Homo sapiens: one gene and its partners. The protein of the gene in region 3 interacts with the protein of the main gene of each other region in a pairwise test. Each region holds a gene or a part of one and is shown on either strand. Other genes may lie near its edges. The genes, in order: C1orf174, CTDSPL2 and PDIK1L.

What was found.
Region 1: the proteins of PDIK1L (region 3) and C1orf174 interact in binary tests that used the Homo sapiens proteins (3 or more experiments, as listed by UniProt).
Region 2: the proteins of PDIK1L (region 3) and CTDSPL2 interact in binary tests that used the Homo sapiens proteins (3 or more experiments, as listed by UniProt).

Annotation. Positions count from the first base shown.
Region 1 is NC_000001.11:3,893,201-3,896,949, reverse strand, and holds part of C1orf174 (UPF0688 protein C1orf174), read left to right. Parts: exon of another isoform or gene 1-1,655; intron 1,656-3,749.
Region 2 is NC_000015.10:44,425,729-44,429,477, forward strand, and holds the start of CTDSPL2 (CTD small phosphatase-like protein 2), read left to right. Parts: upstream 1-1,900; 5' UTR 1,901-2,044; exon of another isoform or gene 2,045-2,165; intron 2,166-3,749. UniProt on the Homo sapiens protein: Probable phosphatase.
Region 3 is NC_000001.11:26,114,723-26,118,471, forward strand, and holds part of PDIK1L (serine/threonine-protein kinase PDIK1L), read left to right. Parts: intron 1-3,749.

The DNA of each region.
Region 1 (3,749 bases), about 22 Mb from region 3:
TTGCTGGTGGGGGGTGGCACCCAGCCACTCTGGATGACAGTGGTTTTAGTGAGGTCCTTTTCCTCTTTCCCTGACCACATCCAGCTGTTGAACTTCGCTAATGCCAGGTTATTGTGCTGTTCTCAGCAACAGCCTGGGCATAAGTTGCTCTACAAACTAATCCAATCAAATTGTGGCTTCTTCGAAGGGATACTTTCTAAGGTCAGTGTTTGGTTAGTTTGTTCTGTGTCCAAGAGGCCTCCTCCCAGCCGTGTTAGTCTCTGGTTCTCTTCTGCGAACTGGTTGGCCTACAATTTGGCCTATTGCTTGATTCTCCACTGCCTCCACCCCCTTCGTCACAGCATCCACGGTACTTGAACAGCTCCCTTAGGCCGGAACTTCTCCACATTCCATGGCAGGGAATTTGGTGCCTTTGGGCAGGTGTAAGAGCTGTCTGTTTAGTTGCCTGCCTCTCATCCCAGGCAGAGCCTCTGAGCCAGGGCCTGCAGCTGAGGACAGTAATGGGCTCCTCTCTGAATAGGGGCTGGGGGAGCTAGCAGCAGCCTGAGATCCTCCAAATGTGTCTTCCCCAGCCTGGAACCACCTCATATCTAGGACGGGGTTGATGGGGCCCCAGTCTTCTCCGTTCACTGGGCGGAGCCTCTTGCAGAGGCTTAAACCGTACTGGTAGAATGGAGCCAAGGTGAAGCCTTCATTCTACAAATAGGGTCTGAGCAGAAAGGAGGGCCCCTCTTCTCAATCCTACTCACTCAGGACCTGGTCTCAGTCACAGGTGGGATGAGAGCAGAAAGGGAAGCACTGCTATCCTGCCTCTCCTGGGAAGACACCCCGCTGCCTGGGAGCTGGGGAGGTGGCCCTGTGTTCTTGGCTGCAGCAGGATGGAGCTCAAGTGCCACAGACTCTCCGTGTCCTTACCAAATGTATGTAGGTGTTCTGGAGCAAGTGTTTCTTCATTTGCTGGGTGCCCATAGGACCATTTCCAAAGGCTCTCTAAATGGCTGTTTTGGGACTGCTCATTACTCTCTGAGAAGGTCAGTGAAGCTCCTCGAGCCATCATGTTGAAGTCAGTCTCGGCCAGCCCTTTTGGAGAAACCATGTTTGTGCTTCTGACATACCAGTTATTAAACAATCTACTGGAATGAGGAGAATCTCAATGATGAGAAAGTCTTTCCTTTTTTGGACTGTGGGAGCAGTCCAAGCTGCCCAGCTGCAGAGCAGGAATCTGCAAGTGAGACTGTGACCAATTCTTGACATTTTGGAGTTGACACCTTGGAGGTGGTTAATCCATGACGAAACTGAAGCTAAGCCGATCTCATGTTTTGACTCCTGTCAATCCGGAGAGGACAGCAAATGGCCTGCTCAGGTGTCTGTTAACAGCCAGCGCTTCCAGGCCCACCAGATCCTCAGGTGTCTGTTAACAGCCAGCGCTTCCAGCCCAGCAGATCATCTGGCTTTTCTCTGCAGAAGGGGCCAAAAGGTCCACCTGATGAACCTGTTGCACGCGAAAAGTTCAGAACCACTGCTGCCAAGATGCTGACAGAAGCCTTGAGAAGCACCTGCTGCGGGAAAAGACGTGCAGGCGTAGAACACAGAGCGGGTGGCAGCTTCTTCAGTTCAATCCCCACCTCAGGCAGTTGTTGGGGGTCATATCTAGGGTGAGCTGTGGTGATGGAATAGAGATTTGGAAGCCAGGCATCACTCGTATAACCTCATAAGCTCCTTACCCAAGTTGTCCTCATCTGAAATGGGTGTGCCACTCCTTTAAAGCTGTTCAGGCACCGAGCTGGGCTCCCCACACAGCATACTCCAGCACAGAGCAGCAAAGCGCCCGGAGGAGGGCTCACAGCAGGGAGGAGAGGTGGGGCAGTGGCTTTCTAGGTCAGAGATGTCTTTTCCCTACGAGGCACGTGATGGCGTTTTAGGGAGATGGGCTTGTTTAAGACCCAGTGGGAGGATTTTGATGAGAGATGTTTATGGCAACTCTTAGCAAGTTCTGTAACCTCTGTTGCCTCAGTCCCCTTGGTGTAACTGTGACCATGACGTCTGCCGGGGCTCTCAGCAAAGCCCTGCCCTTGTGAGAGGACGGAGGCGCAGCCCCCGGTGTGCTGTGGTAGCAGGCACTTCACCCAGCCTGTGGGCAACTGGCGTGTCCTGTGTACAGCAGGCGGGCGTCCTGGCCTCCGGTGGGCTGCTGCCTGCTCTTCTCCCTCCTGTTTCAGACACACACTCTGACTGCCACAGTATCACAGGACCTTGGAGCTGCCACCCCACAGGGTTTCTGGAGCTGTCTTGGGCTACGGGGTGCATGGCTGAGACAGATTATTTCTTTTTTTTTTTTTTTTTGAGACGGAGTCTTGCTCTGTCACCCAGGCTGGAGTGCGGTGGCGCAATCTCGGCTCACTGCAAGCTCCGCCTCCTGGGTTCACGCCATTCTCCTGCCTCAGCCTCCCAAGTAGCTGGGACTACAGGCGCCCACCACCACGCCCGGCTAATTTTTTGTATTTTTAGTAGAGACGGGGTTTCACTGTGTTAGCCGGGATGGTCTCGATCTCCTGACCTTGTGATCCACCTGCCTCAGCCTCCCAAAGTGCTGGGATTACAGCCGTGAGCCACCGCGCCCAGCCGAGACAGATTATTTCTGTGTTTTATTTTTTTGTTTTTTTCCTTTTTTTATTTCTCTTATCTGCTGTTGGGCAGGGCACTCTTCATCCGTCCCCTTCTGGGTTCCAGTTCTAGGGCCTGTTGGCAGCAGCTCTTGGGCCTTTCCCGGCCATGTCAACCTGCATTGCTCCTGTTTGTTGCTTCTACTACTCACACTCATTCCTTTCGAGTTTTCTAAGTGCAGTGTGGTATTGTGGACTGGATTCTGGAACAGAAAAACGGTTCATGGAGAAACCGATAAAATACAAATAAAATCTATAGTTTAGTGAAGAGTACCGTAATGTCACTAATTTCTTAATGTTGACAATGTCCTGTAGTTGTTTAACATTAGTGGAAGCTGAGTGAAGGCTACATGGCAACTCCCTGTACTATTTTATTATTATTATTTTTTCAGAGACACTGTCTCACTCTGTCACCCAGGTGGAGTGCAGTGGTGCAGTCATAGCTCACTACAGCCTCAGACTCCTGGGATCAAGTGATCCTCTCACCTCAGCCTCCCACATAGCTGGGACTACAGGTGCACACCACCACACCTGGCTAATTTTTAAAAAAATTTTTTAAAGATGGGCTTTCGCTGTATTGCCCAGGCTGGTCTTGAACTCCTGGGCTCGAGCGATCCTCCTACCTCAGCTTCCCAAGTAGCTGGGATTACAGGTGTGAGCTATCACACCAGTTTCTTTGTACTATTTTTTGCAACTTTCTGAATGCCGAAAATTATTCCTAAATAGTTATTTTAAATGTTATGTCTTTAATTAATTTCTTTCTTGTTATTAGAGGAGTTTGCTTTGCATTCAGGATAAAAGAGAGGTGGACCAGTTTGTTAATATTAAAATTTGTGAGACAGTCGCTAGCTGCATTCAGCTAATAGAATAGGAGTCTAATTTGAGGAAGAGAAACTTTGGTTTCCTCATGTTACCTTTTTTTAAAAACTTTGACAACGTATGAAAGTTGGAGAGCCTTCTAAGGAAGGGCATGTGCTGCTTATTCTAAACACTTTGAAGTTGACTTAATTTCCACTAAAGGACAAATGGTGGCTACTAGAAATATACAAGATAAGGGGGACAGATCGTCCCAAGCCTCCAAAATCG
Region 2 (3,749 bases), on a different chromosome or scaffold from region 3:
TAAACTAATTATTTGTTGGATTCCATTGAACTTTTCAGGAATCTATTTTTGTGTGTGTGGACTGTTACTATTAATAGTTCTGTGCTGTGTATACCACCAGCTCCCAATAAATGTCGCATTCAGAGCATTTTTGCACTAGGAAGATTTAGGGTGCAAATGAACTCTGACAGAAGAATCTGTAGTATACAAGGTTTTCAGAAGACAACCCACCTGCTCCATACTTCGAAATAATGAGATTCACAACGGTATGTTATTTCTGCTTACTTCTCAGCCTCTCTTGCCATCTTCCCCCTGCCCTCCCATCCTCTTTTCTTAGCGCACAGAACTACTTCTCCAATGGCTCAACACAGTCTCATCTTTGGACTTTTCCGTCTGTTGTTTCCTTTACCCAGACACTCTTCCCCTGCAACACACACTCCTCCTTTTTGTCTCAGATGTTATCTTACGAAACCTTCCCAGACCCCCTCGCCGGCACTCTCATGTGTTTTACAACGCCTATCATGCCATCCTTGTATTCGCTTTATCAGTTTTTAAATTCTGTTTACTTGGGTGTCTTCTTCAATAGATTATGATCTTTGGCCGGGCGCGGTGGCTCACGCCTGTAATACCAGCACTTTGGGAGGCCGAAGCGGGCGGATCACGAGGTCAGGAGTACGAGACCAGCCTGACCAACGTGGTGAAACCCCGTCTCTACTAAAAATACAAAAATTAGCCGGTCGTGGTGGCGCGCGCCTGTAATCCCAGCTTCTCGGGGGGCTGAGGCAGAAGAATCGCTTGAACCCGGGAGGTGGAGGTTTGAGCCGAGATCGCGCCACTGCACTCCATCCTGGGCGACAGAGTGAAGACTCCGTCTCGAAAAAAAAAAAAAATCATTACCTTTGGGGAAGGCAGTATCCGTGTCTGCCTGGCTCACTGTTTTACCCGTCGCACCTAGTTATTTTTTCAATAAATATTTCTTGATTGAATAAGGAGAGTGGCTTGGAGTTTCAGTGAAAAATGTTCTTCCAAACACTAGGCTTGGTTTTCCGATACCCCACTAGAACTGGATTCTCTGGACTGATACATTTTCACTCTGTGGAGCTGACCGTCCTTTGACCTAGGGTCGCAGGTGGGAGCCCACTGGCCTGAAAGATCCGAGTTTTCAACCTGCAGAATCACCGCCAACATAGGGTTGAGTCGAAGGGCATGAATATTTATGATCCAAAAGCGACTGCTACGCCCTCTAGGCAATGAGCTGGAAAGGGAACCTTCAAGGGCCACCGAAATCCCAGGAAAGGCGCCAGATTCGCTTTCTCCCGGCCTCAGGCAGCTCTCCCTACGAACTACCTCCTCCAGCGCGCCAAGCCGTTAGTCCCGCCTTATCCCCTCAGCTCCACCTACCCAGCGCGCCCACAGTTACTAAACCCTAGCCGCCAGGGTGCACTACGCGTTCCTAAGCCCCGCCTCCGGGGCAAGGGCGCGCTCCCCCTCCCAGCTCTGCCCAAGCAGTTCCGTTAGGAGCGGGAGGAAAAACCGTCCTTCGGGTCCCCGCCTCTCCACTCCTAACGCTTTACTCCCTACTCCCCCTGCGACCACTACACAGCCGGCTACGGAGGCCCCTAATGTACAAATATCCCCCAGGCCCTTGCTCATCCTGATAGGTTTTGTCCTTTCTTAATCGACCCAGTACTAAGGCCTTGTGTTCAGTTTTTCTCCAGGATTCAGACTAGAGAGTTTCTTCCGGCGTAAGGAACTTCAACGCTCTTCACGGAAGTAAAAGTGTTTTTTTGGTTGTTGTTGCCGTTGTGGCTGCCCGCATTCCTTCCCTCCCACCTCGCGGAATTGTGGCGGGAGGGGGAGGAGGAAGTCAGGGCGCCTGCGCGGAGAGGCCGCTTTCCATCCGGGTCCCTGTCCGTGCGGTGCAGCAGGTCGGTAGGCGGGAAATGGCGACTGGCTGAAGGAGCTGGTTCTGTTGCTGCTGCGGGGTAAGCGGGAAAGACACCACACATTGCGCAGTCGGGACCATCGCCGGAGCCTGAGGACACTTCTCTGTCGTCACAGTTAGGTAATCCCCTTCGTCCAGACGCCGCCGCTGCTTCCAATCTCAGTCCTCCTCCTCTTCCAGGGCCGTCTGCCGGGATCTCCTCCCCTTCTAAACCTGGTCCTCCAGCGGCTCTGGCGCCTTGGTAGGCATGCACTCTTTGGCGCCTCGTACGTCCACTGTGCGGAGCCGCTCCTGTCTGGACTTTCCCCTGGGAACAGAAAGGGAGCTCACTTCCCGCCAGCTTCACCTCTTAGGTTGCGGCCTGCGTTGTGATTTCTGGGGTTAGATTTCACTTTGCTACCCACCCCCACTCCGATCTCAAGTTCCTAGTCCCCAACCTCTGGGTAATTAAGTTAGAAGTTTAGCTTTTTTTAACCTTTTTGGCCCACCTCATGTTTTCAGCATTTCATTCTTTGGAGTAGGGTGCTTTTAGGGGGGCGTTGCTCTTATCTCAGTTCTTATAAACACCTTTTCAGAATCTGGAAGAAGGGATTTGACTAAGTTCTGTTTATCTTTTGTACTGTTAAAATCTCGAGTTGACATTGTTACTTTTTCAAATCGGGAGTGGTAGTAAAGAACAGTCCATGTGGAAGGCGTCTGGTTTCCACAGTGGTCAGTTAAAGAGTGAACCTTATTATCCTTAATATTCTCTGCTTTCTTTGGATTTTAAATGTCTGTATGGGTGTTTACTTTTGCATTCTTGACCAGAGTTCTGTGGTAAATAATTGCATAAGTAAATCTTGTTTATTTACTTCTCACCCTAGTGGTGGCTGGATGTGTGAATGATGTTAAACACTTCAGCGTACCTTAGGGAAACCTAAAGAGATCTAAGAGCTCGTAAACTTACCTGAGATCCTGAAATGAAACGTACTCAGTAGATGTTCCTCCGAGGCAGGGATTTATCTTCCTAATGCTGGTAACGCAGTACCAAGATGAATTTCTTCAGTGGGTATACAAATTAGTGACTTGAAATGATGGATTTATCTGTGTAATTTTCAAATTGTAGATTGCTTTGTCTCCCCATTCTTCGCCCAGTTTTAAATTTTCGTTCCTGGTCCATTTTTTATTCTTAGAAAAGGGAAATGGCGTGTTAAAGCTAGTTTTACTATATTTCTTTACTTTTTCTTTCCTTTTTTTTAAATTACATTGCAGACCAATTGTTCATAAAGAGAAGTAATAAGGAGGCTGTTGGTGTTTTCGGAATTTATTAATCATGTTGAATTTGGGATCTTTGTAGGTTTTTTTGTTTTCACTAATCAAATTAAAATTTTAAAAACTGTTCACATTGAATATCAGTTGATATTTATAACTCAGGTTTTCAGTTCTGGATAGGTCCAGTTTAGAGAATTTCACTATTGTTTGCACGATGTTATGGTTAATTTTCAATAATAAACAGGAACACACAAACATTATTATAATCCTCATTTGGTAGACTTTGCCCAAGGTCATAAAGAAAGTCAAGGCAAAAGGTAGCTCTTATGTGAAGGAGTTTTTTAGGATTAAGTTGAGCTTCATACTTTCCTAAGGCGAATAGAATAGTGGAGGTACAGGCACGTTAACTACTTGCCGAGTCAGTTTATTTAAAAAATGGAGCCAAATATGCAACTTAAAGGGATCTTAAATCATTGGTCTAGTGTGTAGGTTTTGTCTGTATTTTAATGACCTTTTTGGGTAGTTAATAGCGTTAATGTTTTTAATAAAAATTAGTTTGCAGCTAGCTGAGTGA
Region 3 (3,749 bases):
TGCCAAGAATTGAGTAGATGTTTGCTTTAAAACAAGGTTTTATTTAAACCTGTGAGGCACATACCTAAAAATAACATAAGCCACCTGTTATGCAATGGTACTTGCCAGTCTGCATAGGAATGGGGCAAGATAGGAACTAGAGAGGTGCTTGAGACTACAGTCTAATAACTTCATTTCTTTGAAATCAATAATTTTGGACTTGAGGACAGAAGAAAAGGAAAAATTCCACAACCAGTAGCAACACCCCTAGGTAATTGGGCATCTCTTTTATAAATCACTGGTTTGAATGTAAGCCTCTGCTGTTTTAGAGGGATATCTGGTTTCTTCACCACGCAGTTCCAGTTAATTTTCATGAAGTACATGATTTAACACCTGAATGTTATTAACAGTGCTAACAGCTAACATTTGAATTTGCATGCAGTTCGATGCTCTGTGCTGAGTGCTTTAAAAGCAGTTGCTCAAAACAATCCTGTGAGGAAAGGACTATTATTATCTTCATTACAAATGAAGAAACTGAGGCTTATAGTATAGATAATGAATTCATCCAAAATCACATACATAGTAAGTGGTACAATTGGGAGCTGGAGCTGAGAATGACAGCTGAAGCTTATGCTTTCTTAACTCCCAGATTACTCTTCTGTAAACCTGGGAAAATGGAAAAGCTTTTCTGTTTTTCTTTTGTTGGCTTCTGCCAGAAATTAAAATCTCTAGTAGCTCTATACTCAAAGAATAGAAAATATATTAAGACATAGCTTGTTAAAGGCTAGGGCAGAATTTCTTAAAGCTAGTCATTCTTGGGCCAGGCACAGTGGCTCACGCCTGTAATCCCAGCACTTTGGGAGGCCAGGACGGGCAGATCACGAGGTCAGGAGATCAAGACCATCCTGGCTAACACGGTGAAACCCCGTCTCTACTAAAAATACAAAAAAATTAGCTGGGCGTAGTGGTGGACGCCTGTAGTCCCAGCTACTGGGGAGGCTGAGGCAGGAGAATGGCGTGAACCGGGGAGGCGGAGCTTGCCGTGAGCCGAGATCGCGCCACTGCACTCCAGCCTGGGCAACTGAGCGAGACTCCGTCAAAAAAAAAAAAACAAAAAGAAACTAGTCATTCTTGGAAAAGAAAACAACTTTCTTTGAGTGTGTCTAAATTCAGAATTTACCATCAGACTTTTACCATTTAAAAGTCTGCTTTTGGGCTGGGCATGGTGGCTCATCACGCCTGTAATCCCAGCACTTTGGGAGGCCGAGGCAGGCGGATCACCTGAGGTCAGGAGTTTGAGACCAGCCTGGCCAACATGGCAAAACCCTGTCTCTACTAAAAAACTACAAAAATTAGCCTGGCATGATAACGTGCAACTGTAGTCCTAACTACTCAGAAGCCTGAGGCCGGAGAATCTCTTGAATCCAGGAGGCAGAGGTTGCAGTGAACCAAGATCGCACCACTGCACTCCAGCCTGGGGGACAGAGCAAGACTCCATCTCAAAAAAAAAAAAAAACTCTGCTTTTGGTCAGGCGTGGTGGCTTACGCCTCTAATCCCAACAATTTAGGAGGGTGAAGCAGGAGGATCACTTCAACCCAGGAGTTCAAGACCAGCCTGGGTAACATAGCAAAACCCCATCTGTACAAAAAAAAAGTGCAAAAATTAGCCAGGCATGGTGGCATGTGCCTTATAGTCCCAGCTACTTGGGAGGCTGAGGTGGGAGGATCACTTGAACCCAGGAGGCAGAGGTTGCAGTGAACTGACATCATGCCACTGCACTGCAGCCTGGGTGACAGCGAGATTCTGTCCCCCAAAACAAAAAAGAAAACAAAACCTCTGTTTTTAAAACAAGAAAAGTTTTGGACTAGGAACAACAAAGAAAACAAATACACGAATGTATGTATTAAGAAACTTGCAAGTTTCCTTGTACGATGAGCAGTATTAGTCTTGAGAACTTAATTTATATTAATTTATATTGCAGTTTAGCACTCTGTGCCCTGAAGTTTTTTGTTTTTTGTTTTTTGTTTTTGAGAAGAAGTTTTTGCTCTTGTCGCCCAGGCTGGAGCGCAGTGGTGCAATCTCGGCTTACTGCCACCTCCGCCTCCCGGGTTCAAGCAGTTCTCCTGCCTCAGCCTCCCGAGTAGCTGGGATTACAGGCAACTGCCACCACGCCCGGCTAATTTTTGTGTATTTAGTAGAGATGAGATTTCACCATGTGGACCAGGCTGGTCTTGAACTTCTGACCTCAGGTGATCCACCCACCTCGGCCTCCCAAAGTGTTGGGATTACAGGCGTGAGCCACTGCGCCCAACCTTTTTTTTTTTTTTTTTTTTTTTTTTTCTTTTTTGAGACAGAGTCTTGCTCTGTCGCTCAGGCTGGAGTGCAGTGGTGCGATCTCGGCTCACTGCAACCTCCGCCTCCCAGGTTCAAGTGATTCTCCTGGCTCAACCTCCTGAGTAGTTGGGACTACAGGTGCCCGTCACCATGCCTGGCTAATTTTTGTATGTTTAGTACAGATGGAGTTTCACCATGTTGGCTAGGCTGGTCTCGAACTCCAGACCTCAAGTGATCCATCTGCTGCAGCCTCCCAAAGTGCTGGGATTACAGGCGTGAGCCACCTCGCCCAGCCAATGCCCTGAAGTTTTCCGTTTTATGACAGTAAAAATAACTAGCCTCTGTGCATTTTATTGTTTGCTTTTCTTAAAGTGCTTATTATGTAAGTTGAATTGATAGAAAATATTGGAAACATTCTTACTATGTTCTCTCTGAAAAGTGAATAGAGGCCAGGCATGATGGTTCACACCTATAATCCTAGCCGAGGCAGGCAGATTGGCTGAGCTCAGGAGTCTGAAACCAGCCTCGGCAACACGGTGAAACTAAAATACAAAAAATTAGCCAGGTGTGGCAGCGTGTGCCTGTAGTCCCAGCTACCCAGGAGACTGAGGCAGGAGAATTGCTTGAACCCGGGAGGCAGAGATTGCAGTGAGCCAAGATCATGTCACTGCACTCCAGCCTGGGTGACAGAACGAGACTCCATCTCCAAAACAAAAACAAAAACAAAAAGTGGATAGAAAGCCAAACATGGTGGCTCACACCTGTAATCCCGGCACTTCGGGAGGCTGAGGCAGGCAGATCACTTGAGGCCAGGAGTTCCAAGACCAGCCTGGGCAACATGGCAAAACCCCATCTCTACGAAAAATACAAAAAGTTAGCTGGGTGTGGTGGCACACACCAGTGGTCCCATCTCCTTGGAAGGCTGAGGTGGGAGGATCACTTGAGCCTTGGAGGCGGAAGTTACAGTGAGCCGAGATTGGGCCACTGCACTCCAGCCTGGGCAAGAGCCAGACCCTGTCTCAAAAAAAAAAAAAAAGTGGATAGAACCTTGCTGAACTTTACATTGAGTTTTAGAGACTAAGAGGCATGATCTATTTTGAACTAGAAAAGCAAAGATATTTAAACAAAAGATTTATTAGCTGAGCATGGTGGCACGCACCTTTAGTCCCAGCTACTCAGGAAGCCGAGGCAGGAGGATTGCTAGAGTCCAGGAGTTCAAGACTGCAGTGAGCCATGATCGCACCACTGCACTCTAGCCTTTATCACAGAGTGGGACCCTGTCTCAAAAATAAACAAATAAACAAACATATTATTTAGTGCTGAGTCCAGATCCAGCAATTGTTATAGTAGCTAGGCATTAGCTCATAAAGTTTTAAGATGTAAAGGCCTACCAGACTTGATTCAGTGATTTTTATATCTAAAGCACCTTTTTGTT